4 separate regions of the Homo sapiens genome follow, and all the other regions are linked to region 2. Evidence: fine-mapped expression QTL. A gene starts in region 2. Each other region holds a variant in brackets. All regions are shown on one strand. Distances are between the middles of the regions.

The links.
Region 1: its variant is fine-mapped to the expression of ARHGEF10L in whole blood (TOPMed, PIP above 0.99). The same link has a PIP of 0.9 or more in blood mononuclear cells.
Region 3: its variant is fine-mapped to the expression of ARHGEF10L in whole blood (TOPMed, PIP 0.97).
Region 4: its variant is fine-mapped to the expression of ARHGEF10L in whole blood (INTERVAL, PIP 0.95).

What each region holds. Positions count from the first base shown.
Region 1 is chr1:17,628,625-17,631,301 of GRCh38, forward strand. All of the region lies in intron 15 of ARHGEF10L (Rho guanine nucleotide exchange factor 10 like), which reads left to right. Among named protein-coding and RNA genes, the nearest start is that of LINC02810, 88 kb to the right of the region's middle. RefSeq lists enhancers at 866-1,519, 1,520-2,171. The variant G/A (reference allele first, on the strand shown) is at 1,656.
Region 2 is chr1:17,538,425-17,541,101 of GRCh38, forward strand. ARHGEF10L (Rho guanine nucleotide exchange factor 10 like) reads left to right here and starts at 1,274. Exons shown (of 29, transcript NM_018125.4): 1 at 1,274-1,526.
Region 3 is chr1:17,623,769-17,626,445 of GRCh38, forward strand. ARHGEF10L (Rho guanine nucleotide exchange factor 10 like) reads left to right here. Exons shown (of 29, transcript NM_018125.4): 13 at 619-735; 14 at 2,188-2,280. Among named protein-coding and RNA genes, the nearest start is that of ARHGEF10L, 85 kb to the left of the region's middle. The variant G/A (reference allele first, on the strand shown) is at 1,418.
Region 4 is chr1:17,598,957-17,601,633 of GRCh38, forward strand. The region is part of intron 4 of ARHGEF10L (Rho guanine nucleotide exchange factor 10 like); the gene reads left to right. Among named protein-coding and RNA genes, the nearest start is that of ARHGEF10L, 61 kb to the left of the region's middle. The variant G/A (reference allele first, on the strand shown) is at 1,040.

The DNA.
Region 1 (2,677 bases), 90 kb after region 2:
GAGGTCATAGGGAGAGGTTCAAATTTTCTGGGGAATAAACTGGGAGCCTCTTGGCTCTGTGGGGTCCTAGAAGCAGAACTAAGGCCTATGGCTGGCTGTTCCCAGGAGGGAGGTTTCAGCAGCACGGGGTAGACCTTTCTAAGAGTCCAGGAAGGAGTACCCAGAGGGAGAGTGGCCCTTTCCATGTGTGCTGCACTTTACAGTATAGAATGCTGTCTAACCTGCATCAGCATCTTTGCTTTCCACCCCATGCCTGTGAAGTGGGGCAGGGACAAGGCCTCCTGTAGGGTCCCCTGCAGTGCCAAGCTTCAGGCAACCCACATCTTAGGACTCTGTTGCTTCAGGCCAAATTCAGGTTGCAGGTTGTGTTGTGGCCCACACAGTATTTTATTCTATTTAATTTAATTTTATTTTGAGACAGGGCCTCATGCTGTTGCCCAGGCTGGAGTACAGTGGTACAATAACGGCTCACTGCAGCCTTGAGCTCCTGGGCTCAAGTGAGCCTCCTGCCTCAGCCTCTTGAGTAGCTGGGACTACAAGCACGAGCTACCACACCCAGCTAATTAATTTTTTTTTTTTTTTTGTAGAGATGGGGTCTCACTATGATGCCCAGGCTGGTCTCAAACTCCTGGGATCAAGTGATCCTCCTGCCTCAGCCTCCCAAAGTGTTGGGATCACAGGCATGAGCCACGGTGCCCGGCCCACACAGTAGTTTTAAGAACATGGCAGTAGTTGCCAACATTTAAAAATTGAGAGAGATCCTATAAAATTCAGACTTGTGGGTCTCCTGGGAGGGTAGGAAGAGCTGGCTCACCGACCCACCTTCCCACGTGGCACCAGCCCCCGAGTGGCAGCTGCCCACTTCCCCTTGGTTCCTACCCACCTTTCCCACTGATGTTACCTGCAAGCCCCTAAGGCATCTGAGTTTATTTTACCTGCTCCAGGAGGATTGGGCTGGGGAAGACGAGATGGGGAGGGGACAGCGCCCTCTCCTGGGGATGTCCCCATCCACGTGGCTCAGGTTGGGCATGAGGGGCAGGGTCACTCTCCACCCCCTGGTTCCAGGCAGGACTAACTCAGCCATCCCCCACACAAGCCTCGAGTTTGGAATGTCTCGGGAGAAAAAGCCTTCAGCCCCGCCATGACCACCCGTGCTGGCCTTTGCGCTCAGGAATCTTCTCCTCTCCCCACCTTCGGCTCCCTCTTCGGTGACCAAGAGGCTTTCTCTTGCTTTGCCTCATACACCTGTGCAGCCACAGTGGGGAGAGGCCTCTTGGGAGGAGGAAATAAATTCCGTAGTGGTTGGGAAGAGCCGTTCTGCCCTCTCCTGCTCTGTGAGGTGGGCCCTGGCTGGAGGTAAGGGAGACCTCTTTGATGCTGGGCAAAGGACTAGAGGCTCTAAGCTTCCATGTCTCCATTTGCTGGGTGAGGGTAGGTTGGACCATGTGAGATGTTAGGAAGAGTGTGGTGGAGGCCGCACCCTGGGCTTCCCCCTCCAGGGCCCTCCCTGGACAGTCCTGGCCAGTTCTGTGACCTGTTTAGTGATGTCCCTATCACCATCACCCAGGGAGAAGCAGAAACGAAACTGGGTGTAACCCGAAACGGAACCATGCCAGCTGTTTCAAAATAGCCTAGGCAGGAGCCTCCAGAGGGCC[G/A]TTTGTGCAATATCCTGGTTTTCTTTTTCTTTTTGTTGGTTTTCATCTGCCAAGGGGGCAGCGCTGACTGCCAGAGCCCACGGGACTTTCCTCTTCCAAGTTTTGGGTCATGGCACATTTGGCAGCCCTTGGGGCGGGGGGCCCTGCTGTCTTCAAGGTCCGAGTAGTGGTCTCTTGAGTTGGCGTTTGGTTTCCTTGTGGAAATAGTGAGGCGGAGCCTGGCCTTAGCAGCTGTGGGGGACCCCAAGTCCTCCTGCATGTTAGGAGCGGTGGGGCCTCCCCTGGCTCCTGTCACACTGTGCACTAGCTGCTCAATGCAGGGAATGGTGAACGTGGCCTGGCTCTGTCCTGTGCTGTCAATCAACAGTGGGTGGGTCTCAGCGAGTCACTTTACCCCTGGAATCTCAGTTTCCTCACCTGGGCAATGGGGATGGCCTCAAGGACCGCTGAGCTGATTCAATGAGATGTGGAATATTAAGAGCCATCCTCAGTGCCTGGCACACCCTGGGCATTTGGTCCCACTGGGACTTTTGGTTGTGTGCCGACTTGAGAGAGATGATGCTTTGGAGAACAACAGCATTCTCTCCCGAGGAGGCTCGGGGTGATCTGTCCTTTTCTCTCCTGGGGATGCCTGGGGGTGATCTGTGTTTTTCTCTCTGGGGAGGCTCAGGGTGTTCTGTCCTTTTCTCTCCTGGGGATGCTCGGGGTGATCTGTCCTTTTCTGTCCTGGGGATGCCCGGGGGTGATCTATCTTTTTCTCTCTGGGGAGGCTCAGAGTGATCTGTCCTTTTCTGTCCTGGGGTTGCCTGGGGGTGATCTGTCTTTTTCTCTTTGGGGAGGCTCAGGGTGATCTGTCCTTTTATGTCCCGGGGAGGCTCGGGGTGATCTGTCCTTTTCCCAGACAGGATGGGGAAGGAAGGGGAGAGTAATGGTTGTCGTCAGAGTCACGGGTTTTGGGAATGAATTTTGCTGAATATCCTCCCTCCCTCCCAGAAAAAAATCCCCTTTAGAAAAAAGACGTT
Region 2 (2,677 bases):
GAGCCAGTGTTGCCCTAGCCTGGGGCTCAGGACAACTCTGTGGTGCTTATGTTCTTGTGTCGAGAGGGACAATAAACAAACCAACAAGTCGGTGAATAAGATGATTTCAGTGCGTGGCCTGTGTGGCTTGTCTCACTGCACTGTAGCCGTTTGTTTATTTGCGTCTTCTCCTAAGCCTATGAGCTCCGAGGGGGCGGGGCTGGGGTCTGTCTGGTTCTTTGTCTCACTGGTAGCCCCTGAGGCTGGTGCCTGACAAATAGGGAGTAGTTAAAAAAAAAAAAAAAAAAAAGTTTTTGCTGGCTGTGGGCTGTAAGGAACACAAGCTGAAAATGATTTCAACCTACGTGCACCTGTACCCTTTGGAGGCTGCAGAACTTATCATTATCAACCCAGGAGTAATTGCTGATAAGCCCGCGTGTGAATTTCCTTGCAAATAGAGGGGTAGCGGGGGAGTGTTTAACAACAACGCGGATAATCTTAATTAATGACCTGATAACTGTAATTAATTGCATCATATCCAGAGGCCCTCTTTGGAATTTCAGGAGGGAGTACCTAGTGTTTGGCAGCTTTGGAGCTGCAAAGGCAGGGGAATGCTAGGATCTCAGTCTCAGCACTTTGCTGCTCAGTGAGCTTTGCCAAGTTACTCTCAGTTCTGAGCCTCAGTTTTCTCCTAGGGAAAATGGGGCTACATCACTGGGGTGTTGCCGGTCTCAAAGCCGTCAATGCCTGAACCCGCCAGGGTTGTTCTTGGAGGTTTGGCTGCATGGCTGCAAGGTTCCCCATGTTGCCATGGCGGGGGTGGGGGGCAATACGGGGCCGCCAAGACTGGTTGAGGGGCAGGTCATAAGTCTAGGGTTTCCCCTGGGGCCGGTCCAGGATTCTCACCCTTTTGGGGGAACCTCAGGGCAAAATGTTGAAGTGGGGGAGGAGAAGCCAGCACCCTGCGCGCCTGCGGGGTCTCCCCGCGGAGAACCGGGGAAGGAGAACCGGGAGGCGGGAAGTGGGGACCCCGGGGTAGGTGAAGGAGCGAGGAGGTCGCCGTGTGGCCGGGGCCGGGCCCCATCCCCGCGGGCCTCAGTTTCCCCCCTGTACTGTGGGGGGCCGGTGGGCTGCCGGGACCGCTGGGGGCTCGCAGCGGGTCGGGGGAGGCCACGTCTCCCTCGCGGCGCGCTGGGAGCAGGGAGGGGGCGCGGCGGCCGCTGCCCCGGCCACCAGGGGTTAAGCGGTGACCTCAGCCGCGGCGCCCCGGGACCGGGCGGGCGGGGGCGGCGCCGCGTCGCGCACGGCGGCGGCGGCGGGACCAGGCCTCGGAGCGCGGCGGGCGCGGGCGCAGTCCCGGCGGGCCCGGACCTCGCGGGCGGGCGGGCGGCGCGGCCATTGGCTCGGGTGGCGGCGGCTGCGGCGGTGGGGGCGCCGTCCCGGCCATGGGCGCCCGCGGCGGCCTGCGGAGCTGGAGGCGCGGCGCCGGCCGCCAGGCGCCTTTGTGAGCGGCGCGGACGACAAAGGCGCGGGCCCGGGCAGCCGAGGTGGGTGAGTGAGCGCGGGGGCCCTGCCTCCGCGGGATCCTCGCGTGTGCCGGAGTCTGCGAGTGCGCGGGAGGCGCTCCAGGCGCCAGGGTCCTCCGGGTGTCCTGGGCGTGTCGCCGTGGGCGGGCGGGGGCCGTGTCCGCCGCTGTGTCCCTGTGTCTGGGTGTGAGAGCCCCGAGCCCGCGTCTCCCCTCTGTGTGGGTCTCTCCTTGTGTCACTGGAGTTCTGGTGTTACTAGGGCGAGTGGCCTTTGTGCTTCAGCTTGTGTGTGTGTGTGGCCTCCAGCCGGCTGGAGTCAGGACAGTTTGGGAACCCCCACCCCCACCCTGTGCCTCACTTTCCCCTGTGGTCCACTTCTTCCTGCGCTGACCTTGGGGGTCCCTGGGATCGGGTGAAGTCAGGGAGTGCCCCTGTCGCCTCTGTGGTGAGTCAGCCTCTCCCACCCTGGACCCCCGCCCAGAGGCGGAACGGGACGGCCTCCTGCAGGAGGAGACTGTGGGAGGAGAGGATGCCGGGTCAGCCGGAGGCCGTGGCTGCGGAGCCGCCAGTCCCGGATCCTCCCTGGAACAGGGATATATGTCAGGGAGGGCCCTAGATGAAGACCAGCCCCCCTGGAGTCGCTGGGATGGCCTCCGAGAGGGAGAGCAGGCCTGACTGTAGGGGGCATGGGGACAATTCTTCCTCCCTCTGCCAAAGCGGGGCCCTGGGGCGGGGGTCTCGAATCTTCCTTTGGCCCTGAAAGCCAGGAGGCCCTGCGTTGCATCAGTGCCAAGTAGAGAGGTGGTGGCTGGTGGGCTGCACTTTCCCACTGGCTTTGGAGCTCAGTTTCTGCCCCAGAGTCCTTGGCCTCCCTTAAGGATGCTACTGGGAAGCCACGCCCCACCTGCCGGGAGCCCCATCTGCTCCTCCTCGGGTTCTGGGGAGAGAGGGCAGGTTGTGCGGGCTCATTAGAATGCATAGCTCTTCCCAGCATCCGCCCAGCACTGTGCCCCCCACGGTGTTCAGGCCCTGGACACACAGACTAGAAAGCAGGTCAGCCTCCGGAAATCTCCAAGCTCCCTGTGACTGTGGGCTGGGGACTGCCCTTCCCCTTCATCGGGCCCTCAGGCTGAAGCTCAGAACCCTCCTGTAAGGAAGGCTTCCTGGGGTGC
Region 3 (2,677 bases), 85 kb after region 2:
TGGTAGCACTCTACTTTGATGTGTTTTAGGTAACTAGGTTTTGCTAAAAGAAAAAAACTTTTTTTTGAAAGCCACAGCGCTCGATAGAGTCACTGAATAGGTCTGATGTTCTGGGTGTATATCAAGGGGCTCTGGAGAGAGAGTTGATTGACTCCAGGCCGACCATCCCTCCCTTGGTAACTCAACTCTGGGCACGCTGCCCGGTGAGAGGCCAGGAGCACTTTCCTTAAAGGTGGAGGGCAAGGGGCATTCGATTTCCTGAACGTGAATGCAGTAGAAGGGGTGTTCCCCCTGCCCTTCTCCTCCCTCCACCTGTGGGCTTGGGCTGCTGCACTGGGGATGGAGACCTGGGAGGCGAAGGTCCCCTGGGCTCTCCTGTGGCACCACCCCATCCCACCTGTGACCTCAGGCCAGCCTCTCTACCTCTCTGAGCTCCATGTCCACACCCCAGTGGGGGTGATGGATTTGCACAGCTCGAGGTCCCAAGGGAGTGTGGGGTGAGTGCAGGCGCCCTTCTGCTCCCTGCCTTGAGGCGGCCTCCCTGGCCCACACCTGCCTCGTTTCCTTCTGCTCCCTGCATTGAGGCGGTCTCCCTGGCCCACACCTGCCTTGTTTCAGTTTTCCAAGTCCATGGTGCTAGATGTGTACAGTGACTACGTGAACAACTTCACCAGTGCCATGTCCATCATCAAGAAGGCCTGCCTCACCAAGCCTGCCTTCCTCGAGTTCCTCAAGGTGGGCCTCCATGGTGGTACCGTGCCTGGTCAGGGTGGGCAGGGAGATTGCTCAGGAGGAAGGGAGCATTTTGGCCCCAGCTTTGGGTATGACATCATAGCTTTGGCCTGGACAGCTCCCCTCTTTCTTTTGGGGCAGCCCAGTCCCATGGGAAGAAAATCGTTCCCTCCTGCCCCTGGGAGGAGCGTAGCCAAGTGTCTGTAAGCAACTGGGATCCTGGAGCTTTGGCAGGGTGGAGGGAAGACCTGTGTCATCTTGCTGACCCTTTGCCTCCTGTGCCCTGGTGAGTGGGTGGGTCTGCCTGGCTGGCCCTGTGGTGGGCTGTGGCTCCCGGGTTGCTAAGCTGGTTCCTTTTCCTCATTTATAAAAGGGTGAGGAAATTCCTTATAGGGGTATCTTGGGCATTGCTTGGGAGAGTAAAGGTTAAAGGCTTCGAAAAGCTTCTGAGTTCTCATGTGCCCAGCCTCTGCTGATTTCTTTGGGAGTGTAGTCTGGTGAGTCAGAGCCCCTGCCTGTAGGGAGCCTGCTGGCTGGCAGAGGATGCAACTGGGCTAGGTGCCAGGACACGCACACATGTGCCGGCAGCACAGGTTAGATGCCACGGCCTCAGTGGAGGAACCCACTGTCCCCATCAAAGAGAACAGGGGATCAGGAGGAGCCACCATCTGACATGGGCCCTGGC[G/A]GGGGATGGTGGGATTGTGCCAAATAAAGACAGAGGAGAGCCTATATCAGGTGTAAGGATAGTGGAGCAAAGGTTAGAGGCAGGAGGAGAGGGATGGGCAGGTCTGTTTGGATTCTGGGAGCACTGATGCCTGTTGGGGAGTCCCAGGAGAGAAGGCCTGAGTGTGCACACTAAGAGGCGGCTGAGTTCAGTTGGGTGGTTCTAGACCTCCAGGCCCAGGGCCTAGGATGTAATATTTCAGGTAATGGGGAGCCATTGAAGGATTTTGAGCTAGGGTAGATGGAAGTGGAGGCAGGTGGAGAAACTGTGGGATTGCAGCATATGGGGGCCAGGACCAGGTAACAGGTGTGTGGATGGAGTGGGGGATGGATGCAAGAGACAGGACAGAAGGTCCCCCTGTGCCCCGCCCCTTACCCTAGCCCAAATCTGTCTGCATTTAGTTTAAGTGGAGGGAATGGTTGCCTTGGCCACTTCTAGAAGTCTGACATCTTGAATAAATTGCTGAGTTTCCCAGTTATGCCTTTAGTTCAGAGACCTTAAGATGACTGCTTTAGTCTCCTGAGGGTGCGCGGCCATGCAGGGGCACTGGTGGGAGAGGGATCCCTGGCTGCAGAACCACGGACCTCTCTCAGCTCTTCTTGCAAGCCCAGGGATAGGCAGGGTCTTAGGGCCTGGGGAGAGGAGCCCAGAATGGGGACAGTGTCTGGACTCTGGGGCACTGGGCCCTCTCTGCAGGGGGTCAGCGAATGACGGAACCTTGTCTCCACCAGCGACGGCAGGTGTGCAGCCCAGACCGTGTCACCCTCTACGGGCTGATGGTCAAGCCCATCCAGAGGTTCCCACAGTTCATACTCCTGCTTCAGGTACTGCTCAGGATTCCAGCAGCTTCAACCCACAGGGTTTGCCTGTGGGCTGGGAGGTGCCTCCTGGGGTAGGAGGGAGGAGGTCTGGGCTCTTGTCCGTGATCCATAACCCACCCAACCTGCTGTGGGACTCTGGCCTCATCTTTCTCCACTTCTAGAGTGAAATTGATTGTAACTGACAGCTCAGTTTGCACGCCCCTCTGTGGGGGACGCTGAGGGACTGCTGGTGGCCTGAGTCTGGGTTGCAGGAAGGGAGTGAAGGCACAGGGAATCCCGGGACCCGCAGGGCTCCTGGCATGGAGGAGATGCTCAGTAAACATGCTGAGCTTGGCCATTTCAGATTCGAGCTTCAGAACAGGGGATTCCTAAGGGACATTAGCCCCACACAGGGTCCTGG
Region 4 (2,677 bases), 61 kb after region 2:
AGTGATTTCTGGGTAATTGAAACTTTGTGAGGCTCAGTTTCCCCACCTGTAGAATAGGGGTAACAACACCTGCCTCCGGTGTGTTCCTGCAAAATTAAATGTGCAGGTCGGGCTTGTAGGCTCACTCCCAGCACTTTGGGAGGCCAAGGTGGGCAGATCACCTGAGGTCAGGAGTTCGAGACCAGCCTGGCCAACGTGGCGAAACCCCATCTCTACTAAAAATACAAAAATTAGGTGGGCATAGTGGCGCGTGCCTGTAGTCCCATCTACTTGGAAGGCTAAGATGGGAGAATTGCTTAAATCCAGGAGGTAGAGGTTGCAGTGAGCTGAGATCGTGCTGCTGCACTCCAGCCTGGGTGACCAAGTGAGACTGTCAAAAAAAAAAAAAGAAAAAGAAAAAAAAAACGTGCAATTACATGTAAAGCAGAGCAAGCAGTGCATGGCGGATGCTTTGTCACGGTCACTGTCATGGCCACATATCAGAGCAAAGAGGACCTGTGGCCGGGAGACTGTCCAGCCAACCTCTTCTAAGCTCACGTCTGTTCCAGCCGGAAGAGTTTGGTTCTGTCTGAGCAATTCCGAGCAACTGATGTGGCGCCTTCAGGATGTTTCTGTGTTGAGGAGGTGGCGGCTCAGCGAAGCAGCTGTTAGAAATCGGGGTTCAGGTGGCTCCCATCAGCCCATCACCCACCTTCCTGGTCCAGAGAAGCCCTGTCCTCTCTTGGCCTTTACTTCCTGTCATTGGTGGAAAGTGTCTCCCCAGGACCAAATGTGCTGCCTTCCTTGCCCTGGGGTGACACTGTTGACTTCTGGCAGTGAAATGTGAGCTGACACTTGCTCCTCTAATAGGGCAGGTGACTTAGACCTGCACCACCCAGTCCAGTGGCCACTAGTCATGTGTAGCTATTTAAAATTAAATTACTTGAAATCAAATAGAGTTAAAAATTAAGTTCCTTAGTCCCACTAGCCACATGTCAAGTGCTCAATAGCCACGTGGCTGGTGGCTGCTGCACCGGATAGGACAGGCAGGAGCATTCTC[G/A]CCACCACCACCGCTCTGCTTATTATCTGAGAGGCAGTGGAGGGTGGCACTCAGAGCCCAGCTTGGGAGCTAGACAAGCTGGCCTCATGGTCTGGCCCTGCCACTCCCTGGCAGAGTGATCTTGGGCAGGTTCTTCTACTTCCCTGCAGAATGCAGAAGATGCCAGGATCCTGTGTGGTGCTGGGAAGGTGAGGCAGAGGGCCTGGCTCACAGGAGGTGCTCAACAGCAGAGATCCCTCCTCGCAGCCTCCTCCCCTCCCTCTTCCCCTGCCCTGTCCTACTCTTCATCTGCTACAGGCTCGGGTGCCAGGAAGGGAAGTTCAAGTTGATTCTTTGGCAACGGTGCTGTTCTCTTGACAGTCTAAGGCCTCTGCCCTCTAGGTTGGCATAAGTGGTCTTTGGTCTTTGTTTTGTTTTTTTGAACCTGGACTTCAAAAAAATTCACGTTAGAATAGCTTTAGATTTTCAGAGATGTTCTGAAGAGGGAACATAGAGCTCCACATACCCCTCATCCAGCTTCCCTGCTATGAGCATCTCACATGGCCTTGGCACAGTTGTCAAAGCTGAGACCTACGTTGGCACATTACCATTCACTAAACAGATTTTGTGTGGATTTCATCAGTTTTCCTACTTATGTTTATTTTTTGACCCAGGATCCAATCTGGGATCCCACGTTGCGCTTAACTGTCATGTCTCTGTAGCCTGCTCCAGCCCGTGGCAGTTTCTCAGTCTTTCCTTGATTTCCAAGACCTTGAGAATATTGAGGAGTGATGTTTAGGTGCGGTGACTCACTCCTGTAATCCCAGCACTTTGGGAGGCTGAGGTGGGTGGATCACTTGAGTTCAGGAGTTTGAGACCAACCTGGCCAACATGGTGAAACCCCATCTCTACCAAAAGTGCAAAAATTAGCTGGGTGTGGTGGCGCATGCCTGTAATTCCAGCTACTTGGGAGACTGAGGTGGGAGGATTGCTTGAACCCGGGAGGCAGAGGTTGCAGTGAGCCGAGATCGCACCACCGCCCTGAAGCCTGGGCGACAGAGCGAGGCTCTGTCTCAAAAAAAAAAAAAAAAAAACAAAAAACAAAAAACTCTAAAAAAACAAAAAGAGTCTTGAGGAGTAATGCCAGGTATTCGGTACAATGTTCCCCACTCCGATTTTGTCTGGTGTCTTCTCTGTGATTAGACTGGGGTTATGCGTTTTGGATAAAAACACCATGGAGGTGAAGTACCCATTTCATGACGTCTTATCAGGACACATGGCACCTGCGTGGCGTCTCTACAGATGCTCACCTGGGTCTCTTGGTTCGGGACGTGTCTGCTGGGCTCCTCTGCTGTTTCCCATTTGCATGTCTGCTCTGTGGAAGGGACTCACTGGGCCAGCCCATCCTCAAGTGTGCATGAGGGACTAAGCTCTACCTCCCACTTACAGTCTTTTGAAGCTTTGCAAGTCTTGTTTCTTTTTCCTTTTTTTGATGGAGTGTTGTTTTGTCATCCAGGCTGGAGTGTAGTGGCATGATCTTGGGTCACTGCAACCTTCCTCTTCTGGGTTCAAGTGATTCTTGTGCACCAGCCTCCTGAGTAGCTGGGGCTACAGGCATGCACCACCACGCCTGGCTAATTTTTGTATTTTTAGTAGAGA